2 separate regions of the Homo sapiens genome follow, and region 1 is linked to region 2. The links come from fine-mapping of genetic effects on gene expression. A gene starts in region 2. The other region holds a variant in brackets. All regions are shown on one strand. Distances are from middle to middle. Region 1 overlaps NR6A1 (nuclear receptor subfamily 6 group A member 1). Region 2 holds the start of RABEPK (Rab9 effector protein with kelch motifs).

Region 1 (9,832 bases), 460 kb before region 2:
ACATTCAGACCATAGTACCAGGCAATGAGAAAATAATTCATCACTACACACGGATTGAATGTTGAACATCATGCCAGAAGTGAAACTGAGAATAAGCATTCACTTCATGTAAATTGACTCAAAAACGGGACAAAAGTACAGGAAAGCAGGCTGGTACAATGGGAAGGTTAGACCTCTCCTAGGTTCTAACTCAAGCCACCTTTAGTTATATGACTCCCTATTCTGGGCCTCAGACTACTTTGGACATTAAATGAACGGACTATACTAGAAGTCTCAAAAAAGGACAAAGCCTAATGTACCTTCTGAAAGTGCCCATTGTTGTGAACTCAAGTAAATGATCAAACAAAAATAGAGGGTGACTCAAAAACAAAGAAAATACTAAGTAAAATATTTAAGATGGACATCTATTGCTTTTATCTGCCTAGCAACCACTCCCCACTTCTGTTAATGGCACCCTGATTTTTCTTTGCAGACTTCTATTCAAAGGCCACATGATCCAAGGAGAATTGACCCTAACTTTGTTGTAAATTGGGATCAACAACAGCACCTACCTTATGGGGATGTCAAAAGAATTAAATGAGACCAGGTACAGTGGTGCATGCCTGTAATCCCAGCACTTTGGGAAGCCGAAGCAGGAGGATCGCTTGAGCCCAGGAGTCGGAGACCAGCCTGGGCAACATGGTGAAACCCTATCTCTACCAAAAAAATACAAAAGTTAGCCAGGTGTGGTGGTGTATGCCTGTAATCCCACCTACTTGGGAGGCTGAGGTAGAGATCACCTGAGCTTAGGAGGTCGAGGATGCAGTGAGCCATGATCGTGCCACTACACTCCAGCCTGGGCAACAGAGTGAGACCAGGTCTCAAAAAATAAAGAATTAAATGACACAGTGAATATAAAGGCTTTGCACAGTACTTGACAAAGTAAGACCTCTATATATGTAAGCTGCTACTAACTAATCTCTAGGGTCCATCCAATTCAGTGCTGTGTCTATGGAAGCAAAGTGTAGATTATAGCAGAGTTACTATTAAACCATTCATGGCATCATCCTCAAAGACCTGGGATGGAACCCTAATATCACTAATGTCACTTTGGTTACTTGCTGTGGTTCTTGAACTTTTACATTTTCAGCCTGTAAAGTGCTTGATGTGGTGATTCCAGATGTTTGCTACTTCCTGAGGAAAGACTCTATATTCACACTAAAAAAAATCCTCCAAGGGTCACAAAGATCCTGATTATAAAATTCAGTAATTACATCTACATTCCCTCGACCTAGTCCTGAGACCACTGCTATTATGTTGTCTCTGGATTTACAGATCATCACTAATGCAGGAGCCTTGAAGATATATGGAGAACAATGTTAATCTTACCTACAAACCACATACCTACTGACCACAAGGCAATGAAATGGCCACAGCTAGCTACTATTGTCAAGCAGAGTTTTGCCCAGATTCTCAGCAACCACATCTAGCTGGCAAAATGATTCTTAGCTAGAAGAACCCAAACCACTGCTAGATGTAACCCCAAATGTACGTTAAATTGGATTTATTCAATTAGATTCAACTCAAAGGCAATCAGAGTTGTTCAGCAGAAAGCAGAATCTTGGCCGGGCGCAGTGGCTCACACCTGTAATCCCAACACTTTGGGAGGCCAAGGTGGGTGGATCACTTGAGGTCAGGAGTTCGAGACCAGCATGGCAAAAATGGTGAAACCCCATCTCTACTAAAAAGACAAAAATTAGCCTGGCATGGCAGTGCACACCTGTAATACCAGCTACTTGGGAGGCTGAGGCAGAAGAATCGCTTGAACACAGAGGCAGAGGTTGTAGTGAGCCGAGATTATGCCACTGCACTCCAGCCTGGGGGAAAGAGCAAGACTCCTTCTCAAAAACCAAAAAAAAGAGGCTGGGCGCGGTGGATCACCTGAGGTCAGGGGTCCTAGACCAGCCTGACCAACATGGTAAAACGCCATCTCTACTAGAAATACAAAAATTAGGCGGGGCGTGGTAGCTCACGCCTGTAATTCCAGCACTTTGGGAGACTGAGGTGGGCAGATCACGAGGCCAGGAGTTCAAGACCAGCCTGGCCAACATAGTAAAACCCCGTTTCTACTAAAAATACAAAAATTAGTCTGGCGTGGTGGTGCACACCTGTAGTCACAGCTACTCAGGAGGCTGAGGCAAGAGAATAGCTTTAACCTGGGAGGCGGAGGTTGCAGTGAGCGGAGATCGCGCCACTGTACTCCAGCCTGGGCAACAGAGCAAGACTCTGTCTCAAAACAAAACAAAACAAAAAGAAAAGCAGGCTCTTAAGCTTCATAAATAAACAAACATACCCCCAAACCCACCTGTCGCACAGAATACAACATATTAAACAGATCAGGAAATTTTCTGAGAAATCCAGGAAATTTTCTGAGAAATCCAGGGTCTTTGTATGGTGACTTAAATTGCTTTCAAAAGGAAAAGAGAGACAAGAAACAGATTGGTTCCTAAGATGATATCACCAAGTCAGTGTGCACACAAGCAATCTGAAATGTTACTGCAAAGGTTATATTCACTTGCCTCAGTTTAACTAGGAAGATAAATGCGTACTGAAAAAAGGACACGGGGGCCGGGCACAATCGCTCACGCCTGTAATCCCAGCATTTGGGGAGGCTGAGGCAGGTGGATCACCTGAGGTCAGGAGTTCAAGACCACCCTGACCAACATGGTAAAACCCCATCCCTACTAAAAATACAAAAATTGGGCCGGGTGCAGCGGCTCACACCTGTAATCCCAGCACTTTGGGAGGCCAAGGCGGGAGGATCACGAGGTCAGGAGTTTGAGACCAGCTTGGCCAACATAGTGAAACCCCATCTCTACTAAAAATACAAAAATTAGCCAGGCGTGGTGGCGCATGCTGTAGTCCTAGCTACTCGGGGGGCTGAGGCAAGAGAATCATTTGAACCCGGGAGGCGGAGGTTGCAGTGAGCCAGGATCACCCCACTGCACTCCAGCCCAGACAACGAAGCAAGACTCCATCTAAAAAAAAAAAAAATACAAAAATACAAAAATTAGCTGGGCTAATTTTGGTGGTGGCAGGTGCCTATAAGCCCAGCTACTCAGGAGGCTGAGGCAGGAGAAATGCTTGAACCTGGGAGGCAGAGGTTGCAGTGAGCCCAGATCACATCACTGCACTCCAGCCTGGACAACAGAGCGAGACTCCATCTCAAAAAAAAAAAAAAAATGGGGGCGGCGAGGGTATGGGTATGAATTAGAATTAGATTCAAATCCCAGATTTGCTATTATCAAATTAACTACTCCAAACCCATGTCTTGGAATGAGGATAAAAATAACCATCACATTCAATTGTCATGAGATTTGGTGAATATATGTAAATCATCTACTTTATGGCAAGTAATCAGCAAATGGCTCTAAGTCTAGGAATCTTATTTCATACAAGAGAAAGTTCCAGTTGACAAGCTCTTCTCCAAATAGGCGTTTTGTTTGCTTTTTAAACAAGGTCTTGCTTCTGTAGCCCAGGCTGGGGTGCAGTGGCACGATCATGGCTCACTGCAGCCTTGACCTCTAGGACCCAAGCAACCCTCCTACTTCAGCCTCCCAAGTAGCTGAGACTACAGGTGTGCACCACCACACATTTGACAAAAAGGCATTTGACAAAAAGAAAATGATCACTGATTCCTCAAATTGTGACTGGCTATCATGAGAGATTAAAATGTCACTGATCTTTTTCCTTTTTGATATTTTGACTATAAAATTGTAAATTTACCATGACAGAAACTTAAATAAACTTCTGAGTATCACCAGTCAGCAAATTAAGGTGTGAAACACTAGCTAATTATACTCTATAATGTGTTAGAGTTACTCAAGCAATGTTTTAGTTTGACTGTAGGAAGACAATATAGTGCAACAGAGACATGGACTCTGGTTAACGTTCTGCTAGTTACTCAGTCTCTTTTGAAGCCTCAATAACCCATATGTAAGATTAAGGCCCTTAAAAGGTAAAATTCTACAATTCTAATCAACTATCTCTTTCTACAAAACAGAAGTTGTATGTGTCTCTCATGATTTGCCAACCACTTTATCTCTTGCTTTTCATAGCATCCTACCCAACAGTGTATACTCCATCCACACTGAAGTACATCGTGGCTCCCAGAATTCAACACGCTCTTTGGCCTCAATTCCTTTACACATGCTATTTTCTCCACCTGAGCCCACCTTTACTCACCACTGACATAAGGACTCAAGTCAGGTCTCCTCTAATTTCCCCCTCCCTTTCCTGCAAACACTCAAGTCTGAGTTAGGCACTACAAACAACATGGCTGAAACTATAGTTTTTCAGGGACCTATGAGGAAGAAAAAGACTGGTTTCAAAATCCAAAACACAAACACATCTGCAAATTTGAAATTCAAATGTTTTAATTAAATATGAGATAACGTTATTTCACTTAGTCAATTGCAATTCAAGTCTTATATAGTTTTAAACATGAGATACAGTGACACAGGGCTTGTAGGACTAAGAAAGCCAAAGGTCAAAATAGGTCTTGAAATTGCTCTGACGAATTCTGTGTGACTCTTCTATGCTCCCACAGGTTCCTGTGCTTTACACACCACAACCATATCATGATCAGGACCACTAGAACCTGAATTCAGAGAACCCAAGGTTTCAGAGAAGTCTGTTTTTCCAGGATCCCCAAGAAAAAGTTAAAAATCTTTACCCAGGTTTTCTATTGATATACAACAGTCATTCACTGGTCTTTCCTAGACCAATCCCCTCTAGTCAGCTGTATCAGTTTCCCATCTACCTTGTCTCCCGTGATCATGATTTGGCACCCAATAAAACTCTTGACTAGATCAGTCAAATCTAGTCTCAACCCCAAAGATAACCCCAGCCCTGGGCCTGAGACATGTCCCAGGAAAGGCAGCTCAATAAATGTTTGAAGAACTGTTTCTTTCACCAGAAGACAATAATGGTAAGCTACAATGCCACTACAATGAATTTCTTGCCAAAATAACAAATTTCAAGAGAACAATTTCACTATTCTCAACTTTTAAAGCCTAGATAAGCACTGTCCAATAGAAATTTCTACAATGACGAAAATGTCATATATCTACACTGTCCAATACAGTTGCCACTAGCTACATGTGGCCAATGAGTACTTGGAATGTGACTGGCGTGAATGAGGAACTGAATTTTTAACTTTACTCTTAATTTAAATGGCCGTATGAGGCTGGTGGCTATGAAACAGTGAAAACATAGTTGTCGTCCCTCTTTGTAAATTTGTCACACCACATGTTTTGGATATACATGCTTAAAAAAATAAAATATGGAAATGTTTAGGCCAGTATTATTTACTAGCCAATTTATAGCTGTGTCAGCTGTTATAAGAATAGGTC[C/A]ATCAGCCTGCAAATGCAGTCACTTACTCCTTCAAATATTAAGTATCTACCCATACTGTAACAGGCCAGAGGCCTCGAAGGTAGAGATATGAATAAGACTGACTACAGAGAATTAATAGTCTCTAGGAGTACAGAGCAGACAAAAATAACTGTAGAGCCTGACAATGCAAATGCACTTAATGCCACTAAGTTGTACACTTCAAATGGTTAAAATGGTAAATTTTATGCTACGTATATTTTACCACAATTTTTAAAAAGATTAAAGCCTACTGAAGAAAAAAGTTGAAACAATATTTTCGAAAAAATTAACACTATGGGACAGATGGACATGATACACTGGGAAGCAGTGCAGAGTAGAAAGAGCATAAATTTTTATTTCAGAATAGGTTTGAGTCCTGGCACCATTACTTACTAATTGTGTTAGCTTAGGAAATGACTTCACCCTCTGGGCCAATTTCCTCATCTGTCGATTATGAGTACTCAATGATATGATGCACTGAGGTCAGTGAAAGTGCTCGGTAGCCATGATCGATATCAGGGAGAAGAGAAGCAGCAATCATGGAGCCAGGAGCACAGAGAGGAGACAGGCATTCACCAGGCAAACAGGGCTATTTGAGAAACATATTTAGAGGAAGCAGCATGTGAAAGCACTAAATAGAGAGAAAAAACAGAATGTTACTTGGTAATTTGACTTGATTGGAATCTCAGCAGGGCCTTATCATAAAGACCTTCAACTGTCATACATGAAGAGTTTTTGGTTTTTATCCTATAGGCAACAGTGACTGAAAATATATGTACACCTAGGAAGTTTGTCAGTAACAGCCCAACTCTCATTACTTCAATACAGGGGCTCTAAAATTTCAACCAGAAAACCAAAAGCACAAGGAGTTTTAAAAAAATAAAAGAGGCCGGGCACGGTGGCTCACGCCTCTAATCCCAGCACTTTGGAAGGCCGAGGTGGGCAGATCACCTGAGGTTAGGAGTTTGAGACCAGCCTGGCAAGATGGAGAAACCCCGTCTCTACTAAAAATACAAAATTAGCCGGGTGTGGTGGCGCATGCCTGTAATCCCAGCTACTCGAGAGGCTGAGGCAGGAGAATTGCTTGAACCAGGAGGCAGAGGTTGTGGTGAGCCGAGATCGCACCACTGCACTCCAGCCTGGGCAGGAAGAGCGAAACTTCGTCTCAAAAAATAAAAATAAAAATAAAAAATAAAAGAGCAGCTGGGCACTGTGGCTCACGCCTGTAATCCCAGCATTTTGGGAGGCTGAGGTGGGCGGATCACGAGGTCAGGAGATGGAGACCATCCTGGCTAACACGGTGAAACCCCGTCTCTAGTAAAAACACAAAAAATTAGCCAGGCATGGTGGTACGCGCCTGTAGTCCCAGCTACTCAAGAGGCTGAGGCAGGAGAATCACGTGAACCCGGGAAGTAGAGGTTGCAGTGAGCCGAGATGGTGCCACTGCACTCCAGCCTGGATGACAGAGCGAGACTCTGTCTCAAAAATAAAAAATAAATTAAAAATAGAAATAAAAGAGCTTTGTTGAGGCAGCCAAAACACACATGGCTAGCCATCCATAGACCTCCTTTAGATTCTAGAAACTTCCCTTTGGGGGGGCCCTTCCTCCACTCTATCTTCTAGTCTCCTTTTGGTACAATGAATGGCTTTGGCATGAGGCTGAGAAGGAATGCAGCTTTATTTTGGTGGTGGGAAGTAACAAACATGAACTACACAGCCTGCCTTACAGCCATATCTGCAGCCTGCAAGCAGCTCCAGACCTAGGCAGATACAGGAACACTTTTCTTGGATTGGCTGATTAAATTCACACCTGCCTCTTGCTTTTCTATCCAGTGAGTGGGATGCCACTTGGGCCATTAGCTTTTGTTTCTCACAGGCAGCTTGACAAACCATACTTAAAGAATAACAGAAAATGCTTTTGAATGCAGAAACATAGCACCACAAGTCCATATAGCAAAAGCTATCTGGTAGAGCTTTAAGTAGTAGCTCTTTTCTCCACCTACAAATGTCATGGTCACATTTTTAAAAGTGCAACAAAAACAATACCCTTTTCCTAATGTAATTTTCTTAAACATGAAATCTTAGGGGGATACTATGCCCATGTATTTGCTCAGCTTAAATGCAGTACACGAGTGTCTATATTTCTATGGAAACATTAATAACTTCCATCTGATCAACCTACATCACCTTTCATATAGTTTTTCCGGCTTCTAGCTTTGCAATTACAGCCTTGAAACCAGACTGAAGGCAGAAAAGCCAGCCCAAGATTATGACATTTCAATTTTAAAACATTTTTAAAAAATAAAGACAGTACACAGCTTTCAAGGCTGTAGCTATAGAATCAAAAGGTGAAAACGGTTTAGGAAGGCAATTCAGTCTGATGAGTCAGAGGTCATTAGTGTTTCTATGGAATTACAGCACAGGCATTTCTCAGAAAACTGCACGTACTGATGATTCTCTGGCATTTTTCATTTGCAATTTTTGGTTCTCTGGAGGAACAAAAGGGACTGTTGATAATCCTTCATTTGTCTTGGAGGTTAAGAAATTTCAAGGCCAGGCACAGTGGCTCACGCCTGTAATCTCAGAACTCTGGGAGGCCAAGGCAGGAGGATCCCTTGAGCTCAGGAATTGAAAACCAGCCTGGGCAATATAGTGAGACCTCTACAACAACAACAAAAATATGTCTGTCTTTTTCAATTAGCTGGGCGTGGTGGCATGCACCTATAGTCCCAGCTACTTGGGAGGCTGAGGTGGGAGGACCACTTGAGCCTGGGAGGTTGAGGCCGCAGTGAGCCAGGATCACTGCACTCCAGCCTGAGTGACAGAGCAAGACCTTGTCTCAAACAAAAAAAGAAAAGAAAAGAAATTTCAAAATGCAAAATACTTAATACAGAAAAATATAAGAAAATGTATACAATAATCTGTCAGTTGCCATTTATTGAATCTATTACTATAAACCAGGCATCAGCTTGACACTTTACATGAATTCTTACTGAAAAATAGCTACTATTGTCTCCATTTTATAGATCTAAACAGATCATTGTACTCCATTACATGGAAAGAGCCACAAAAGTCAAAACAAGAGAACTTCTATTGAAAGCATCTTGACTAATAAAACCCTACCTTTGCGCAGTGCATGTTCTGCAACAGCCGGATGGATGGGAACTTAGCATAATCTCAAAGAGCAACCCTGATGCTCCCATAACAGCAGGACCTCAACGTCCAAGAAGAATACCACACCTTACTTGAGCCCATTTACAAGTCACCTCCTGAAAAATCCAAGATGCCTGTCAGAAGCAGCTACTGAGGGAAGTGAAGATGTTTTTATTTGTTCATTGTCATTGTGAAGACTGACTAAAGTCTTACTGATCAAGGAGTTTGTTTGAACATGGTCAGAGAGCTTTCAAAGTCATTTCAGAAAGTGCCCCACACCATCCTCAACAGATGGTTTGATGGAAGAGAAGTAGCCAGCTCTGCTCAGGAAATCCATTAGTAAGGTGCAGATACCACCAAAGAGATGTCCCACATGTGGCAGAATGTACCTTTTTCCTTATTTTCTTTAAAATCTCCATATAAAAAGGGAAGATGGATGCATGAGGGCCTAGAAAATGTTTATCCCTCTGGATCAATCTTAGGAATCTATCCTAAGAATCAGAAATACAGAAAATAGTACAAAACTCGAGGCCATCTAAAAATTCAAACACAGGAAAATGATTAAATTATGTACACTTATTCAATGGAATATTTTGCGAACACTATAAATGTTTTCCAAGAGTTTACAAAGGGCAAATACCATATTAAAAATACAATGTAAAACTGTATTCTTGGAATGAGCTCAGGTATATTCCAATACATATATACATGAAAAAAAAAACACTTTGGTCCATTTTCTCTTAGTGATTATCTCTTAGTATAACTAATTTTTCTTCCTCCATTCTACTTTTCTGATTAAAATATATTGTTTTTATAAACAGAAACATACATTAAAAAAATCCTGGCAGGGCACAGCGGCTCACGCCTGTAATCCCAGCACTTTGGGAGGCTGAGGCGGGCAGATCACCTGAGGTCGGGAGTTTGAGACCAGCCTGCCCAACATGGACAAACCCCGTCTTTACTAAAAATACAAAATTAGCCGGGCATGGTGGCGCATGCCTGTAGTCCCAGCTACTTGGGAGGCTGAGGCAGGAGAATCGCTTGAACCCGGGAGGCAGAGGTTGCAGTGAGCCAAGATCGTGCCATGGCACTCCAGCCTGGGCAACAAGAGTGAAACTCTGTCTTAAAAAAAAAAAAAAAAAATCCTAAGAACAGGCCGGGTGCGGTGGCTCACATCTGTAATCCTAGCTTTGGGAGGCTAAGGCGGGCAGATCACCTGAAGTCAGGAGTTCAAGATCAGCCTGGCCAACACAGGAAACTCCATCTC
Region 2 (9,832 bases):
GTTCCTACTGCAAGGAACTTAAGGACATCCTCCTCCTTCATTTGCAGGACAGCAAGGGCTCTGGACATTGTGAAAGTTTCCCTTTAAGTTATGATGGGAATCCATAACAACCCCATATGGACCCCTCTGTGGGTAGCATAGAAAACTGGCTGTTTTTCTTTCTTTCTTTCTTTCTTTTTTTTTTTTTTTTTTTTGAGACAGGCTGTCGCCTTTTTTTTTTTTTCTGTCACCTAGGCTGGAGTGCAGTGGCACAATCTCGGCTCACTGCAACCTCTGCCTCCTAGGCTCAAGCAGTCCTCCCACCTCAGCCTTCCAAGTAGCTGGGATTACAGGCATGCATCTCCACACCTGGGTAATTTTTGTATTTTTAGTAGAGACGGGGTTTCACCATGTTGGTCAGTCTGGTCTCAAACTCCTGACCTCAGTTGATTGGCCCACCTCGGCCTCCCAAAGTGTTGGGATTACAGGCATGAGCCACTGCGCCCAGCCACAATTCACTCTTAATCTCTGAACCTCAGTAATTGGGAATAAATCCTATTCAAGATACCTTCTCAGAAGTGGGAAGGAAGACAAATAGGGAGATGGATGTGAATGTTCTTCATAAACTGTAAAGTGCTTAAAAGGAAGGTCTCACCGGCATTCATTACTTCCCTTGCTGATGCATCAGTAAAGAGGTCAGTGGTGTGCTGTTCCAGTGAAAATAGGTGGCAGTCCTCACATGACCACACTATCTGACAGGAGGAAGCTCCCTCCTGCAGACCCACCTCATTGAGTGAACATCATTCTTCACATCCACAGCAGAGAGAAAAGAAGAAAGCGTGCGTCAGAGTGTTGGGCAAGCTTTTAGGAGAGGTGTTAGACACTTCCAGTGGTTTGGTATGGAGATGGGGTAACAGAGCTTGATGACTGGAATGCATTCTTAGTCTTCCTTGCAAGAAATAAGAGATCTGGGTTCCTGGGTTCCTGGTTCTGCCATTTTATGTGGGGTAGTTATTTTAACTTCTCTGGGCCTTGATTTCCATTTTTAAAAATACATCTCTTGCCAGGCACAGTGGCTCACACCTGTAATCCCAGCACTTTTGGAGGCAGAGGTGGGTGAATCATTTGAGGTCAGGAATTCAAGACCAACCTGGCCAACATGGTGAAACCCTGTCTCTACGAAAAATACAAAAATTAGCCAGGCATGGTGGTGCGCACCTGTAGTCCCAGGTACTCAGGAGGCTGAGGCAAGAGAATTGCTTGAACCTGGGAGGCGGAGGTTGCAGTAACCTGAGATCATGACACTGCACTCCAGGCTGGGCGACAGAACAAGATTCCATCTCAAAATAAGTAAATAAATAAAAATAGAAATAGAAAATACATCTCAGGCAGCCTGGCGCAGTGGCTCACGCCTGTAATCCCAGAACTTTGGGAGACCGAGGTGGGTGGATCACGAGGTCAGGAGTTCAAGACCAGCCTGGCCAAGATGGTGAAACCCCGTCTCTACTAAAAATGCAAAAAAAAAATTAGCTGGGTGTGGTGGCGGGTACCTGTAATCCCAGCTACTTGGGAGGATGATGCAGAGAATTGCTTGAACCCGGGAGGCGGATGTTGCAGTGAGCCGAGATCATGCCACTGCACTCCCCCAGCTTGGGCGACAGAGCAAGACTGTCTCAAAAAAAAAAAAAGAAAATAGATCTCAGGCATTCCACATTCTCAAATGTGATTTCTAGTCTAAAAGCATAGGTTCAGCAGGCACGGTGGCTCATGCCTGTAATGCCAGCACTTTGGGTGGCCAAGGCAGGTGGATCATCTGAGGCTAGGAGTTCAAGACCAGCCTGGCCAACATGGTGAAATGCCGTCTCTACTAAAAGTACAAAAATTAACCATACGTGGTGGCCACGCCTATAATCCCAGCTACTTGGGAGGCTGAGGCAGGACAATTGCTTGAACCCAGGAGGCGGAGGTTGCAGTGAACTGAGGGCGCCACTGCATTCCATCCTGGGCGACAAATCGAGACTCCGTCTGTAAATAAATAAATAAATAGGTCCCGCAGTGAAAACTGGCTGCTATTTTGCCCACAAACCTCTTCCAATTTTTCTTGTTGATGTGCCACTCCAGCATGGCACCTTGAAACAGAGCTAGCCAGAAAACACCGGGGACATCAGAGCATTCTGCAGCTGTGAGCAGAAATGTACGTGGAGATGCACATGGACATATGGCAGAGCTAACCTGGACTTGGTTTTCTTTCCTGAAGGAGAGCAGAATGACTGAATATCCCTAAACTTCTCTTTGGCAGACAGTCAATGGGGATTTTTCCACTAAAGTGGGAACTCACAAAGACTCCATATGTTTGAAAGAGCCGCAGACCTTGAATTCCATTTTGTCAATAAATTTTGGTTATGGTTTCAAGTAGCTAAAATATTCCTTTCACCAACCTGGCCTTTCACCTGTATTAGCACATCCTCTGAACAGTTCTGTCTGCACAGCAGGTAATACTATCATCATTCTATAGATGAGGAACTAGGGTTCAGAGTGGGTAACTTGCCAAATGTCAGAGTTAGATGGTTAGTGCTGGACCCTGGATTTTTTTTTTTTGACAGAGTCTTGCTCTGTTGCCCCGGCTGGAGTGCAGTGGCACGATCTCGGCTCACTGCAACCTCCACCTCCTGGGTTCAAGTGATTCTTCTGCCTCAGCCTCCTGAGTAGCTGGGATTACAGGCAAACGCCTGGCTGATTTTTTTTTAGACAGAGTCTTGCTCTGTTGCCCAAGCTGGAGTGCAGTGGCATGATCTTGGCTCACCACAACCTCTGCCTCCCGATTCAAGCAATTCTCCTGCCTCAGCCTCCCGAGTAGCTGGGACTATAGGTGCGCATCACCGTGCCTGGCTAATTTTTGTATTTTTAGTAGAGATGGGGTTTCACTATGTTGGCCAGGCTGGTCTTGAACTCCTGACCTCGTGATCTGCCCTCCTTGGCCTCCCATAGTGCTGGGATTACAGGCATGAGCCACCACACCCAGCCTGGAGCTTGGATTTTAACCCAAGTATGTTTGATCTCTTCCCACTAAGCTACCATAGCTCTATACTCCAGGAGCTCCTGTTTCTAACCTGAGCTGTTTTCTCTATTTTCTAGGACACAGCGACAGTTTCAGAGACTGGAGTTCTTTGAAACAGACATAAGAGAGCAAGCCACCTCTCTATTTTCAGGAAAGACACAGAGAACCTATGGTTATGAACTAAAACAAAGATAATGTAGATTCTGAATATGTCTAGAGACATTGTTCATTTATAGTCAGGAATAGCTTTACCCTTGACAGAGAACTCTGTGCCAGCTGCTGGGTGCTGAGCACTTTTATTTACATTATGTCATGTATTCCCCACCACAACTACTACATACATCTCTCTTTTTTTTTTTTTTTTCTTGAGACGGAGTCTGGCTCTGTCACCCAGGCTGGAGTGCAGTGGCACTATCTCGGCTCACTGCAACCTCCGCCTCCCAGATTCAAGCAATTTTCCTGCCTCAGCCTCCTGAGTAGCAGGGATTACAGGCGCCCACCACCACGCCTAGCTAATTTTTGTGTTTTTAGTTGGGGGGGGGGGCGGGGGCGTTCACCATGTAGGCCAGGCTGGTCTCGAACTCCTGACCTCGTGATCCGCCCGCCTCGGCCTCCCAAAGTGCTGGACTTATAGGCGTGAGCCACCGCGCCCAGCCTATGATAGAAATCTTATTAGCTCCATGGTTACAAACAGACAACCCTGAGGCCTGGAGGAAAGTAACTTCAGAACAGATACTCTCCTGGCTGAACTTTATATTTATTGCACTCTTGGCAGTCGTCCCTAGTTGTCTTTTTCTTTGATCTCTCTCTAGTTAAGACTTGCTCCTGGAGGCAAAGCGTGGTGGTGTCTGGCTCAGCATAGCACCTGCCATAATTACAAATGGCAATTATGGAATGAATCAGCTGTTTAAAGCACCAAATCTTGAGCTGGCCCGAAGACTGCGCAGGAGGATTGCATGCTCAACTCTCCCCTTTAGAAACTGTTAACAATCGTTGTGGCCGGGCGCGGTGGCTCACGCCTGTAATCCCAGCACTTTGGGAGGCCGAGGCGGGTGGATCATGAGGTCAGGAGATCGAGACCATCCTGGCTAACAAGGTGAAACCCCGTCTCTACTAAAAATACAAAAAAAATTAGCCGGGCGCGGTGGCGGGCGCCTGTAGTCCCAGCTACTCGGGAGGCTGAGGCAGGAGAATGGCGTGAACCCGGGAAGCGGAGCTTGCAGTGAGCCGAGATTGCGCCACTGCAGTCCGCAGTCCCGCCTGGGCGACAGAGCGAGACTCCGTCTCAAAAAAAAAAAAAAAAAACAATCGTTGTAACTGGAAATGTAACTGTTATACCCTCCCCCCCTTTTATTTATTTATTTTTTTGAGAGGGAGTTTTTGCGCTGTTGCCCAAGCTGGAGTGTGGTGGCGCCCAGCCCTGTTAGCCCCTTACAGAGTAGATCAGCTGCCGCAGGCATCTGAGTTCCCCAAACGGACGCCCGAACCCGGCATTGCGCAAATCGTTTCCAAGTAGCCCCGGCTTATTTATCCCGTCCGGGAGGGAGGGACCCAGGGAAGGCCCACCCCACTTGGTTCCCGAGAAATGCAGAGCCTGGCGTCCACTCCCGGTCTGGGGGACCCCTCCACCGCCAGCCCAGGAAGTCAGCGCCGGGCCCTCGGGGCGGAGCAGGGAAGAGGGAGCGGTTGGCCCGGACGCTCTTCCGGGTCCTGGGAGGAGGGCCCGGACCTAAGCCCCGCCCCTCCGGGGTGGAGTCACGGCTCGCGACTGGCCTAAGTCGCCGCAGGTATTGCAGTCCGGGGCTGGAGGGTAGGGGCGAGGGTCCCCGGATACCGGGTCTATCACGGTCTCGGGCAGGGAGTCTGAATCTTTTAGGGGAGTGGGCCCAAGCCGGGTGCAAAGAACGGGGAAGGGCCTTCCCTGGCTCCGTCCCGGCCACTTTGACCGAATCAGCCTGTTCTTTCCCGACCCCGTCTCCTATCCCCTAGAACTGCCACGTGGGGATGAGATTTGCTGGGCTGGTAGCGGCGGCTGCTGCGGGAGGTCCCGCCCACGTGAAGCCAGCCTAACTGAGCTCTGGACTTTGGGGACAGCTGTCAGTGGCCTAGGCCGCAGGTGAGATTTATCCATTCATCTCTCAATCTATTTTCTTTCTTCATTCACTAGCCACTCCCCCACTTCTACTCCATGCCAGGTCCATTGGTAGGTTCTCGGAATGGATCTGACAGGCCCAGCCCTCTAGGAACTTAGTCTAGTGGAATTTAATCTAGAATCTAGTCTAGAAGCCTTAAATAGATAAACATTCCAAATGATTCCTGCAATGGTGATGGCTAATACCTTCAGAGCCCAGTGGGTGGAAGAAGGAAGTAACTTGGATGTGGGTGGAAGAGAAAAGGGCAAATCAGGGAAGGTTTCACCAGGGAAGGGACTTTTGAACTGGGCTTTGAAGGTTAACTAGGAGTTTGCAAATTTCCCAGAAGGGAAGCGACATTCCAAATAGGGGAAGCAGAACAGGCTGCAAAATTATGAAAAGGCCTGCCATATTACAAGAACAGCAAAAAAACCAATAATGCAAGAGATTGTGGAGGTGAGTTCACGGGAAAAAAGCTCAACAGCAGAAGGCCTTACTTTCTATGCTATGTTGAGGCCAAGATTTATCCCAGAGCTCAGTATTTCTCAGCTTCTTTAAATATTTTGTCCTTTGAGCGGAGAGCAGTGGCTCACACCTGTAATCCCAGCTTTTTAGGAGGCTGAGGTGGAAGAATTGCCTGAGGCTAGGAGTTCGAGACCAGCCTGGACAACAAAGCGAAACCTCCATTTCTATTTTTTTTTCTTTTTTTGAGGAGGAGTCTTGCTCTGTCGCCAGGCTGGAGTGCAAGTGGCGCAATTTCGGCTCACTGCAACCTCCGCCTCTTGGGTTCAAGCAATTCTCACGCCTCAGCCTCCTGAGTAGCTGGGACTACAGGCGTGGGCCACAACGCCCAGCTAATTTTTTTTGTATTTTTAGTAAAGACAGGGTTTCACCATGTTGGCCAGGATGGTATCGATCTGACCTCATGATCCGCCTGCCTCGGCCTCCCAAAGTGCTGGGATTACAGGCGTGAGCCACTGCTCCCAGCCCCGTTTCTATTTTTAATTAAAAAATAAATAAATGGCCGGGCTCAGTGGCTCACGCCTGTAATCCCAGCACTTTGGGAGGCCGAGGCGAGCCAAGTTCAAGACCAGCCTGGCGAACATAGTGAAACCCCATCCCTACGAAAAATACAAAAAAAATTAGCCAGGTGTGGTGGCACTTGCCTGTAGTCCCAGCTTACTCTGGAGGCTGAGGCAGGAGAATAGCTTGAACCCGGGAGGCAGAGGTTGCAGTGAGCTGAGATCCTGCCACTGCACTCCAGCCTGGGTGACAGAGTGAGACTCCATCTCAGAAAAAATAAAAATAAAAAATAAAGCCAGGCACGGTGGCTCATGCCTGTAATCCCAGCACTTTGGGAGGCTGAGGCGGGCAAATCACCTGAGGTCAGGAGTTAGTGACCAGCCTGGCCAGTGTGGTAAAACCCCGTCTCTACTAGAAAAGCTAGAAAAATGAGCTGGGCGTGGGTGGGCACCTGTAATCTCAGCTACTCAGGAGGCTGAGAAAGGAGAATCATTTAAACCTGGGAGGGGAAGGTTGCAGTGAGTGGAGATTGCACCACTGCACTCCAACCTGTGCAACAGAGTGAGACTCTATCTAAAAATAATAATAAAGATAAATACATAGGCCAGGCACGGTGGCTCACACCTGTAATCCCAGCACTTTGGGAGGCTGAGGCGGGTGGATCAGCTGAGGTCAGGAGTTCGAGACCAGCCTGACCAACATGGTGAAACTCCATCTCTACTAAAAATAGAAAAATTAGCTGGGCGTAGTGGCACATGCCTGTAATCCAAGCTACTCGGGAGGCTGAGGGAGGAGAATCGTTTGAACCTGGGAGGCAGAGGTTGCCATGAGCTGAGATCTTGCCATTGCACTCCAGCCTGGGCAACGAGAGCTAAACTCCATCTCAAATAAATAAATAAATAAATAAATAATAAAAATAAAGATGAAAAGTTGGTGATTCTTATTCAAATCAATCAGGCCTAGAAATTAGTACATTCAACAGGAAAGGTTTAAAAAGGAGGTTGAATTGATTAAGATGATAATCATAAGTGTCTAAAAAGTGCCTTTCTTTCTTATGCATAGGACACCATGAAGCAACTGCCAGTCTTGGAACCTGGAGACAAGCCCAGGAAAGCAACATGGTCTGTAAGGAAGGATCCAGACACAGAAAAGCATGAGTTTTTGTTTCATTTATAAGTAGTTTATTTACATATTTGATCATCAACAAAAAGGGGTAGAGATGAAACTGTCTGCAGTTTCTGGTAATTAGACTCAAACTGTCTGAGAAAGTCTTCAGAGGAAAGATAGGGGGGCAGTAATTATCACAGAGCAGATGTTAATTTTATTAAAATCCATTTACCAGAAAGAGTAAGGCACTGACCATCTGGCATCCTCAGCTCCAATGCTGTGTCTTCCCCCGAGCTCTGACTCATTTTTAAGATTTTTAGGAAATTAGATTTGGATTAAACTGGCTTCACTGTTTCTTGGCTGTTTGTTCAAACAACCCTTTATTCAACAACTAACATTGGCCTGATGGGGGCAGCTGCTCTGTGGGTGCTGGAGGTAGAATTGTAAATAGTCTCTGTGTACTGGGGACTACAGACTAAGCAGGTGATGGTGATAAAATGTGATCTGCTCTGAGTCAGGGCCCACAGAAGGTTGTAGAGAGGTGGCAGTTCTTCAACAGGACCTTGAAGGAGAGACTCCAGACTGGCTTCCATGCATCTGTCTTGCTCTGTACCCAGAATACAGCCAATCATGGCATTTCCTAGTTTAAAACCCTTTTGTGCCTCCCTGTTGGTGTTGGGATAAAAATCAGACTCCTGGGCTGGGCACGGTGGCTCATGCCTGTAATCCCAGCACTTTGGGAGGCCAAGGCGGGTGGATCTCCTGAGGTCAGGAGTTTGAGACCAGCCTGACCAATATGGTGAAACCCCATCTCTACTAAAAATACAAAAATTAGCTGGCATGGTGTTGTGCAACTGTAGTCCCAGCTACTAGGGAGGCTAAGACAGGAGAATTGCTTGAATCTGGGAGGCAGAGGTTGCAGTGAGCTGAGATCATGCCACTGTACTCCAGCATGGGCCACAGAGCAAGAATCCGTTTCAAAAAAAAAAAAAAAAAAAAAGGCCGGGCACGGTGGCTCATGCCTGTAATCCCAGCACTTTGGGAGGCCGAGGTGGGCGGATCACGAGGTCAGGAGATCGAGACCACTCTGGCTAACATGGTGAAACCCTGTCTCTACTAAAAATACAAAAAATTAGCCGGGCGTGGTGGCGGGCATCTGTAGTCCCAGCTACTCTGGAGGCTGAGGCACTCCAGCCTGGGCGACAGAGCGAGACTCCATCTCAAAAAAAAAGAAAAATCAGACTCCTGACCGGGCGCAATAGCTCATGCCTATAATCCTAGCACTTTGGGAGGCTGAGGTGGGTGGATCACTTGAAGCCAGGAGTTTGAGACCAGTCTGGCCAACATGGCAAAACCCCGTCTCTACTAAAAATACAAAAATTAACCGGGAGTGGTGGTGCATGCCTGTAATCCTGGCCACTCGGGAGGCTGAGGCAGGACAATTCTTGAACCTGGGAGGTGGAGGTTGCAGCAAGCCGAGATGGTGCCACTGCACTCCAGCCTGGGCGCAACAGAGGGAGACTCCGTCTCAAACAAACAAACAAACAAATTAGACTTCTTAAACTGGCCCAATGGTCCCTGCAAAATGTTTCTGCCTGTATTTCCAACCTCAAATCCCATGACTTGTTCCTTTGTTCTCTTTCTCTTCTTTATTGTGCCCTTTGCACTGTTCCACTCAGGAGCTGTTCATGCTGGTCTCTTTGCCTGGACTGCTCTTTCTGCCTGGAGTGCTCTTTCCCTCCACTTTTTGTCCCTCTCTTTTCCCAGCTTATTTTATTTTATTTTTGAGACAAGTTCTTCCTCTGTGGCTGGCCACCCAGGCTGGAATGCGGTGGTACAATTGTGGCTCATTATAGCCTCGACCTCCTGGCCTCAAGTAACCTTCCCATCTCCATCTCCCAAGTAACTGGGACTGTTGGTGTGTACTACCATGCCCAGCTAATTTTTTTTTTTAGAGACCCAGTCTCGCTATGTTGCCCAGGCTGGTCTCAAACTCCTGGGCTCAGGCGATCCTCCCACTCTAGCCTCCCAAAGTGCTGAGATTACAGGTGTGAGCCACCACACCTGGCCTACCCAGCTAATTTCTACTCATACTTCAGATCTCTCTCCAAATGGTGCTTCTTCAGGAAGCCTTCTCTGACCACCCTATCTCCCTGGCTCCTTACAGGGTGAGACCCTCCTAAGACATGCATGTCCTCATACTATATATTCTGTACTCCTTTCTACCACAATTGAAGTGAAACAGATAGTTGTGAAACTGTTGAATGTTTCTTTTCCCAACTAGTCTGTAAGGGCTATCAAGGCAGGGACTTTTTTTTGTTATATCCACCATCTCTGGATGGCTGTGTGCTTTTGGTAAATTACTTAACCTTTCTTAGCTTCAGTTCCTCCGTTGTAGAACTCAGATGATGGTAACAGCTGTTATCCTCAAAGCGTTTTTTTAGTTTTTGTTTGTCTTTGAAACGGAGTCTCACTCTGTTGGCAGGTTGGAGTGCAGTGGCACAATCTCGGCTCACTGCAACTTCCGCCTCCC

The links.
Region 1: its variant is fine-mapped to the expression of RABEPK in whole blood (INTERVAL, PIP 0.98).

Annotation. Positions count from the first base shown.
Region 1 is chr9:124,735,982-124,745,813 of GRCh38, forward strand. All of the region lies in intron 1 of NR6A1 (nuclear receptor subfamily 6 group A member 1), which reads right to left. It overlaps LOC124900274 (a long non-coding RNA gene), which reads right to left. Exons shown (of 2, transcript XR_007061773.1): 1 at 8,536-9,832; 2 at 4,398-6,043. Among named protein-coding and RNA genes, the nearest start is that of NR6A1, 30 kb to the right of the region's middle. RefSeq lists an enhancer at 9,142-9,642. The variant C/A (reference allele first, on the strand shown) is at 5,394.
Region 2 is chr9:125,195,754-125,205,585 of GRCh38, forward strand. RABEPK (Rab9 effector protein with kelch motifs) reads left to right here and starts at 4,789. Exons shown (of 8, transcript NM_005833.4): 1 at 4,789-5,153; 2 at 7,255-7,313. The coding sequence starts at 7,261. It overlaps LOC105376271 (a long non-coding RNA gene), which reads right to left and starts at 4,643. Exons shown (of 2, transcript NR_135145.1): 1 at 4,473-4,643; 2 at 3,780-3,902. It also overlaps the pseudogene RPSAP76. RefSeq lists a silencer at 4,667-4,716.